Homo sapiens: one gene and its partner. The protein of the gene in region 1 purifies or fractionates together with the protein of each later gene. This does not show direct contact. Each region holds a gene or a part of one and is shown on either strand. Other genes may lie near its edges.

Region 1 (3,751 bases):
TGGCAAAAAATACTTAAAACAATTTTGATGTAGTACTCTGCTTCTCAGAGCCCTCCCAATCCTCGAACCACAATCTATACACACGAACACATGCAATACTGTATTTTTCTCCACATCATTACTAACCAAAACACTTTACTCTTTTAAAACTTACAACTTGACAGAAATGTTTCCATTCAAGATTGCTATAATACAGAGAGCAGTTGTCACTGACGTGGTTTTTAGCAGCAGAAAGTAAACCGGGAACCAAATCTTACTTGTTACTTACTGCTTTAAAAAAATGACTGCCTTGCTACTGATCTCCATCTCTGCTCTTTAAGTTCAATATCAACACTGAGACTTTCAAAGAACCAGCGCAGCACAAGGACCCTGCAGCCGGCAATTCAGAGGGCATTTCGGACAACTTCCCCCCACCCCCCACTTTCTCCTGCTTCCAACAGAAGATCCTCAAGAAATCTAACTTGTGAAGAAGTCCCCCTAGGTTCCTCTACTTCACTGCAAAATGTAATGCCACTTGAGGTTGTCAAAAATAGCTTCTGTAGAAAACTGGCCATGGTCTTTAGGAAACGTTGCATGAAGAAAATTAGTACAGCCTTTATAGAAAAAGAAAAAAAGGAACCACACATGGAATAAAAGACGTCAGTACCGCTACAAAAAGACTGCAGGGCCTATTGTCAGGAAGAAAGTCGAGTTAGGAGGACGAATGTGCGGAGCTGGAGTGGGCTGAGCATCCTACTCCTCACCCACCCCACCCCCAAAGGAGTCAGTACAATCCAAGTGTCTGTCCACTTCGAGTCATTTTGAAGGCAGCTTAGAAAATTAAACAGGGGCCAGAAGGAAAAGATACAACGTCACCGTCCGAGCCAAAGGGAAAGGCTGGGTTGGGGGTCTATGTGGCGGGGCCTCCCTCATAAACCAATGCCTTTCAGGTCGCAGGGATGGGTCGCCTGGGTGGTCCGGGGGCTCTGGCAGCAGGGGAACTGGGCCCTGAAGCAGTCCCTCAGCTCCCTGTTGAAGAGGAAGCACACGACGGGGTTGATGCCGGCCTGCGCGAAGGTCAGCCACACGGAGGCCGTCAGGTAGGCCTGGGGGACGGCGCCGGGCCGCACCAGGACCCGCAGGTAGCTGGCCACGACGTAGGGCCCCCAGAGGAGCAGGAAGAGCAGCGTGACGGCGTAGAACATCTTGCACAGCCTCTTCTCCGTCTTGAATTCTTCCAGCACGAGGAGGCGGCGCGCGCCGCGGCCCGGCCCTGCGGGCCGGATGCCCACAAGCGCGGGCGGCGTGGGCCCGCGGCCGAAGCCCGCCGTCCAGTTGGCGGCCGCCTGGCCGGTGGCGCCCGGGCCGTGGAAGGTCCAGTCGTGGCTGACGGCGGGCACCAGGCGCGCGGGCCGCATCTTGCGGCGGTCGTGGATGAAGAAGAGCAGGCGGAGGTAGACGAGGTGCGTGGCGCCCACCACCACGGCCAGCAGCAGCAGGAAGCCCAGCGCGCCGGGGGCGCCGTCGGGCCGCTGCTCCAGGGCGCACGGCGCGTCCTCGTCGTCGCCACCGCCGTCCAGCACTGGCGGGAAGGCCGCGGCCAGCGCCAGCGCCCAGGCGGCGCACACCAGCATGGCGGCGCACGGCCAGCCGGCCAGGCGCTCTGCATAGAAGCGGTGGTGCGCGATGGCCAGGTAGCGGGTGACGCCCACGCCCAGCAGCAGGAAGGCGGCGTGGAAGCAGAAGAGCGCGGCCAGGAAGGCGAGCAGCTTGCAGCCCAGCGCGCCCGGCGGCGCCCCCGCCGCGGCCGCCGCACGCCGCGCCGCCAGCATGACGGCCGGGAGGCAGGCGAGCGCGCGCAGCCCGTCGGCCAGGCACAGGTCGAGCAGCAGGTAGTACGGGGCGCGGTGCAGGCTGCGCTCCCGCACGATCAGCAGCGCGAACAGCACGTTGCCCGCTAGGCTCACGCACAGCAGCAGGCTGAGCGTGGCCAGCTTGAGGCCCAGGGCGGCCGCCTCGCCGCCGCCGCTGCCACCCGGCTCGCTCGCGTTCGCCATCGCGGCCTCACCAGGCCGTGCGCTCCGCCCCGGGGCCGTCCCCTGCCTCGCCGCTCCCGCAGGCCGCCCGGCCCGAGCTCCGCCGCTCCGCCGGCCCTGGGCGAGCTCCCCGTCCTGCGGGGCTCAGCCCGCTCCCGGCCGGCCCCTCCTGGGCTCCCCGAGCCGCCGCTGTGCCGCCGCCGCCATCTCAGGAATGGTGCGCGCAGGAGGAGGCGGCCACTCCCTGCGCCCTAGGCGCCGCGGGCTTCACTGCGGACAGGGCCTCGCCACCGTCCGCAGCCCCCCGCATCCTCCTCCGTCTCCTCCTACTCCTCCGCTGCTGCCGCCGCGCCTCTTGGCTCTGCCCCCCGCCGGGCCCGCCGCCGCCGCTGCCGCCGCTGCCGCCGCCGCCGCCGCCGCCGCGGAGCCCCCTCCCCTCCGCCGGAGCGCGCAGCGCGGCCGCCGCCGCCAGCCCCGCCGAGGCATCCCGCACCGCCTGGGCCCGGCTGGGCTGGGGGCGCCTCCGCAGCAGCCGCGGGGTCGGGAGGCGGCCGGGAGGGAGGCAGGGCCCAGGACGCAAGGTGGCGACAAGTCGCGTTTGGCCCCAGGTAACGGGGGTCCGGCGGCGGCGCCCGCGCTGGGGTCACGGTGGCCGTGCGCGGGGGAGGTTGCCTGGGCTGGCAGGGTCGGGAGGCCTCAGAGGGGACAGGAATATCTGGAATGAGCCTTCTGCCCGAAAGCTGGGAGTAATTTACGATAGTAATAGTCATCGTAATCCTAAAACCGCTGATACTCAGGTGCGCACTGATGTGGGTGGCAGTGTGCTGGGGAGCTTGGCAAGCATTATCTCCCTCAACAGTAATCACGAAGTTGTTGCCATCCTTAATCCCACTTTATACCTCAGGAAGCAGAGGCTTGGAGGTCAAGGGAGTTGAGAGCCGGGAAGTAGCGGAGCTGGGATTCAAATTTCGCTTGGTCTGATTTCCAGTGCTGGACTCACAGCGACTCCGCAGCATCCCCTGCTCGCTAACTCATCCGTGATCCCGGTGAAGGACCTATATCAGGGAAAAGAAATGCAGCATTTCATCTTTAAGTGACTTGGAAGGTGAACCCTATGCCACCTTCCTCCCAGGATATCTATTTTCTGGGTAAGCCTGAAAGGGCAGCCCCTGTTATGATTCTCAGACACACCGCATTTGTCTCGCAGGACCTTGCATGTGCTGGTACCTCTGCCTGGACCAGCCCCACAACAGGCTCCCTCTCCGTAGGGCCTCCTTCTAACCCGTCTGTTTTACTCTGTATCCCTGCCCTCTAGTCATTTCCTTCTTAGCACTTATAATTTGTCATTATATACTTTCATTTCTTTTTAAAAATCATGCTCTTCTAACTAGGCTCTAAGCTCTTTGAAGGCAAGGGATCATGCCTGGTTTTTGGTACCACTGCATCCCCAGTGCTTAGCATGGTAAAGCCAGAATTAAGCAACGCATTGTTTCTCACCCACACTCATTTGTTTTTTCTTCTGTGCAGAAAATTATTTGTTGCCTACTGATTACATGCAAGGCAGGCACCTTGATGGGCATTTTCAGGATAGTGCAAGATCATAGAGGGCCTTAATGATCAGGCTAAGAAGTCGAAACTTTAGTCTGCAGGCAGTCAGGAGCCCTTGAAATCTTTTGAGAAGGGGAGCGACATGACTAGGTGTGCTCCAGGAACATTATTCTGGCAGCAGTGTTGAG
Region 2 (3,651 bases), on another chromosome or scaffold:
ATTTTACATTTTTAAATGTTTAGGGAAAAAAAAGAATAGTATTTCATGAAGTGAAAATTAGGCTGGGCGTGGTGGCTCACGCCTGTAATCCCAGCACTTTGGGAGGCTGAGACAGGTGGATCACTTGAGGTCAGGAGTTTGAGACCAGCCTGGCCAACATGGTGAAACCCCATCTCTAACAAAAATACAAAAATTAGCTGGGTGTGGTGGCGGGTGCCTATAATCCCAGCTACTCAGAAGGCTGAGGCGGGAGAATCGCTTGAACCCAGGAGGCGGAGGTTGCAGTGAGCCAAGATTGCGCCACTACACTAGAGCCTGGGGAACAGAGCAAGACTCTATCTCAAAAAAAAAAAAAAAAAAAAAAAAAAATTACATGAAAGTCAAACTTCAGTGTCTGTAAACAGCTTTTTTGGAACACAACATGCCCACTCATTTACTTACTATCTATGGCTTCTCTCATTCTCCAAAAAGAGTAGTTGTGACAGAAACCATAGAGCCCACAAAGCCTAAGATATTTATTATCTTTCAGACAAAGTTTGCTGACCCCGTTCTAGGTTTTGGATACACATCACTAAATAAGAAACAAAATTCATGCAATTATAGAGATTACACTGGTTGGGAGGGTCAGACAACAAATAAATGATGATGACTATCTAGAAAAAAATAAAGCATGACAGTAGAATAGGGAGTCTCAGTGTTGGGGGTACGAGCTGTTGAATAGGGTGGCCAAAGGAAAACCTCAATGAAGGGACTTTTCAGTAAAGACCTGAGATAAGAACAAACCATGCAGTTGCCTGGAGGACGAAAATTCCAAATAGAAGAACACGAAGTACAAAAGCCCTCAAAGGAAGTATCTGGTTTAATCTCGGAACAGCCAGGAGGCCAATGTGGCTGCAGCCAAATGAATGAGAGGAAGATTAGCAGGCGATGAGGTCAGAGGGGAAATAGGCTGCCAGATCAGGTGGAGTTTAGGCCAAAAAAAAGACCAGCTTTTATTCTGGATCAGGTGGAAAGCCAACGGAAGGGTGTGACCGGGGTAGTACTATAACTGGAGTTTTGGCAGATGTAGTGAGAATATAATACAAGGTGACAAGAGTGAAGAGGGAGATGTGCTCCAGAAGGAGCAGCCAGAGAGGGAGGAAGAAAACCAAGAGAGAGTCTATCAAAGAAGTCAGAGGAAAATGCAATGACTTGTCTCAGTTATTCATTGAGCCAAGGACTTCAAAATAAGAAAAGTCAAATCTTGAAGAGATTAGTATAAAAACAGAAAAGTTTCTACTACATTTAACAATAAGGATCAATAATAAATAAACAGGAAGAGAGAATCTGTAATGAACTAAGGAAGTGAATATGCTTTTTATTTTGAGACAATTACAGATTCACAAGCAATTTTAAGAAATAATACAGGCCAGGCACAGTGGCTGACACCTGTAATCCCAGTACTTTGGGAGGCCAAGGTGGATAAATCACTTGAACTCAGGAGTTTGAGACCAGCCCGGGCAACAAAGTGTTGAGACCCCATCTGTACGACAAATACAAAAATTAACTGGGTGTGGTGGCTCATGTCTGTGGTCCCAGCTACTTGGGAGGCTGAGGTGGAAGGATGGCTTGAGACTGGTAAGCAGAAGTTGCAGTGAGCCGAGATCATGCCACTGCATTCTAGCCTGTGCAACAGTGTCAGACCTTGCCTCAAAAAAAAAAAAAAAAAAAAAAAAAAAGAAAAGAAAAGAAAAGAAGAAGGAAGGAAGGAAGGAATGGAGGGAGGGAAAGAGGACGGAAGGAAAGAGAGAGGGAGGAAGGGAGGGAAGAAGGAAGGAAGGAGGAAGCAAGGGAGATTTCCTGTAGCCTTTATTCAATTTTATCCAACTTTAACATCTTACAAATAATACAACATAAAAATCAGGATATTGACAGTATAGTAAAACATGATGAATATTTCCATAACCACATGTTGTCCTCATGTTGGATCCCACAGTGTTGCCCTTTTATAGCCACAATTGCTTCTCTTATGCCTCACCCCTTCTGTAGTCCCTGGCATCCACTCAACTGTTCACTGCCACAGTTGTTTTCACTTCGAATACTTTATATAAATGGAATCATACAGTATCTAATTTTTGGGATTGGCTTTTTTCTACTCAGTATAATTCTCAAGCAATTCATCCAGGTTGTTTCATGTATTAGCAGTTCAATCTTTTTATTGGTGAATAGTATATCCCACGGTATAGGTGTATCATTGTTCATTTACCTGTTGCAAATTGTAGTTTTTGGCTATTACAAATAAAGCTGATATAAAATAAACATTTGTGTACTTTTTGTGTGTGTGTGAACATACTCTTCATTTGTCTGATCTAAATGCCTAGCAAACTAATACAGCTATTCTAGGTTCTTTGCCTTTCCATCCAAATTTTAAAATAATCTTGCCTATGTCTATAAAAATATCTTGCTGGGAGTTGTCTCTCAGCACTGCTTTAGCTATGTTCCACAAATTTTGATATGTTGCAATTTCATTTTCATTCAGTTCAATTTATTGTTTTATTTCCTTTGAGACTTCCCTTTGACATATAGATTATTTAGAAGAGTGCTCTTTAAGTTTCCAAGTGTTTGGACATTCTCTTGTCTTTTTTCTAATATTAATTCCTAGTTTAATTCCATTGTAATCAGAGAACACACTCGGTATGATTTTCGGTTCTTTTATATATATTCAGGTTTGTTTATAGCCAATATGGTCTACCTTGGTATATGTTCCATGGGCACTTGAAATGTATGTGTATTCTGCTGTTGTTGGGTAGAGTATTCTATAAATGCCAATTAAATCCTTTGGCTTATGATGTTGTTGATCTACATCCTTGCAAATTTTCTGTCTGTTGTTATATCAATTGTTGAGAGAAGGGTGTTGAGTCTCCAGTTATAATTGTGGATCTATTTTTCCTTTCCATTCTTTCAATTTTTGTTTCATCTATCTTGCAACTCTGTTACTTGGTATATATACATTTAGAATGGTCACATCTTCTTCATAGATTGACCCTTTTATCACTAAATAATGTCCCTCTCTGTCTCTAATAATTTTCTTTGCTCTGATATCTGCCTTAATTTTAATATGGCCAATCCTGTTTTCCTTTGATTAGTGTTTGCATGATATATCTTTTTCCACTCTTTCACTTCTAATCGGCCTATATCATTATATTTCAAGTGAGTTTACTGAAAATAGCAGACAATTGGATCATGGTTTTTGTTTTGTTTTGTTTTTTTATTGAAACAATCCTGCTCTGTCACCCAGGCTGGAATGAGTACAGTGGCGCGATCTTGGCTCACTGCAACTTCCGTCAGCCTCCTAAGTTTAAGCAATTCTCCCACCTCAGCCTCCCAAGTAGCTGGGATTACAGGGATGAGCCACTGCACCCAGCCTGGATCATGTTTTTTAATCCACTTTACCAATCACTATCTTTTAATTGGTATATTTAGACCATTTACATTTAATGGTATTATTAATATGTTAGGGCTTAGGTCTGCTATTTTATTTTTTGTTTTCTGTTCATTCTCTCTGTTCTTCATTTCTCTGTTTTCTTTTTCTTGCCATCCTTAGGTTACCTATTTTTTAGAATTTCATTTTAATTTATCTATGGTGTTTTTGAGTTATCTCTTTTTACAGCT

The links. Proteins that work in one complex are often made in the same cells at the same time.
Region 2: the proteins of GPR27 (region 1) and ANKRD13C purify together in Homo sapiens (affinity purification with mass spectrometry; one large-scale study listed by BioGRID and IntAct). This does not show direct contact.

Annotation. Positions count from the first base shown.
Region 1 is NC_000003.12:71,752,335-71,756,085, reverse strand, and holds the start of GPR27 (probable G-protein coupled receptor 27), read right to left. Parts: upstream 2,232-3,751; 5' UTR 2,037-2,231; coding exon 909-2,036; 3' UTR 1-908. UniProt on the Homo sapiens protein: Orphan receptor. Possible candidate for amine-like G-protein coupled receptor.
Region 2 is NC_000001.11:70,264,134-70,267,784, forward strand, and holds part of ANKRD13C (ankyrin repeat domain-containing protein 13C), read right to left. Parts: intron 1-3,651. UniProt on the Homo sapiens protein: Acts as a molecular chaperone for G protein-coupled receptors, regulating their biogenesis and exit from the ER.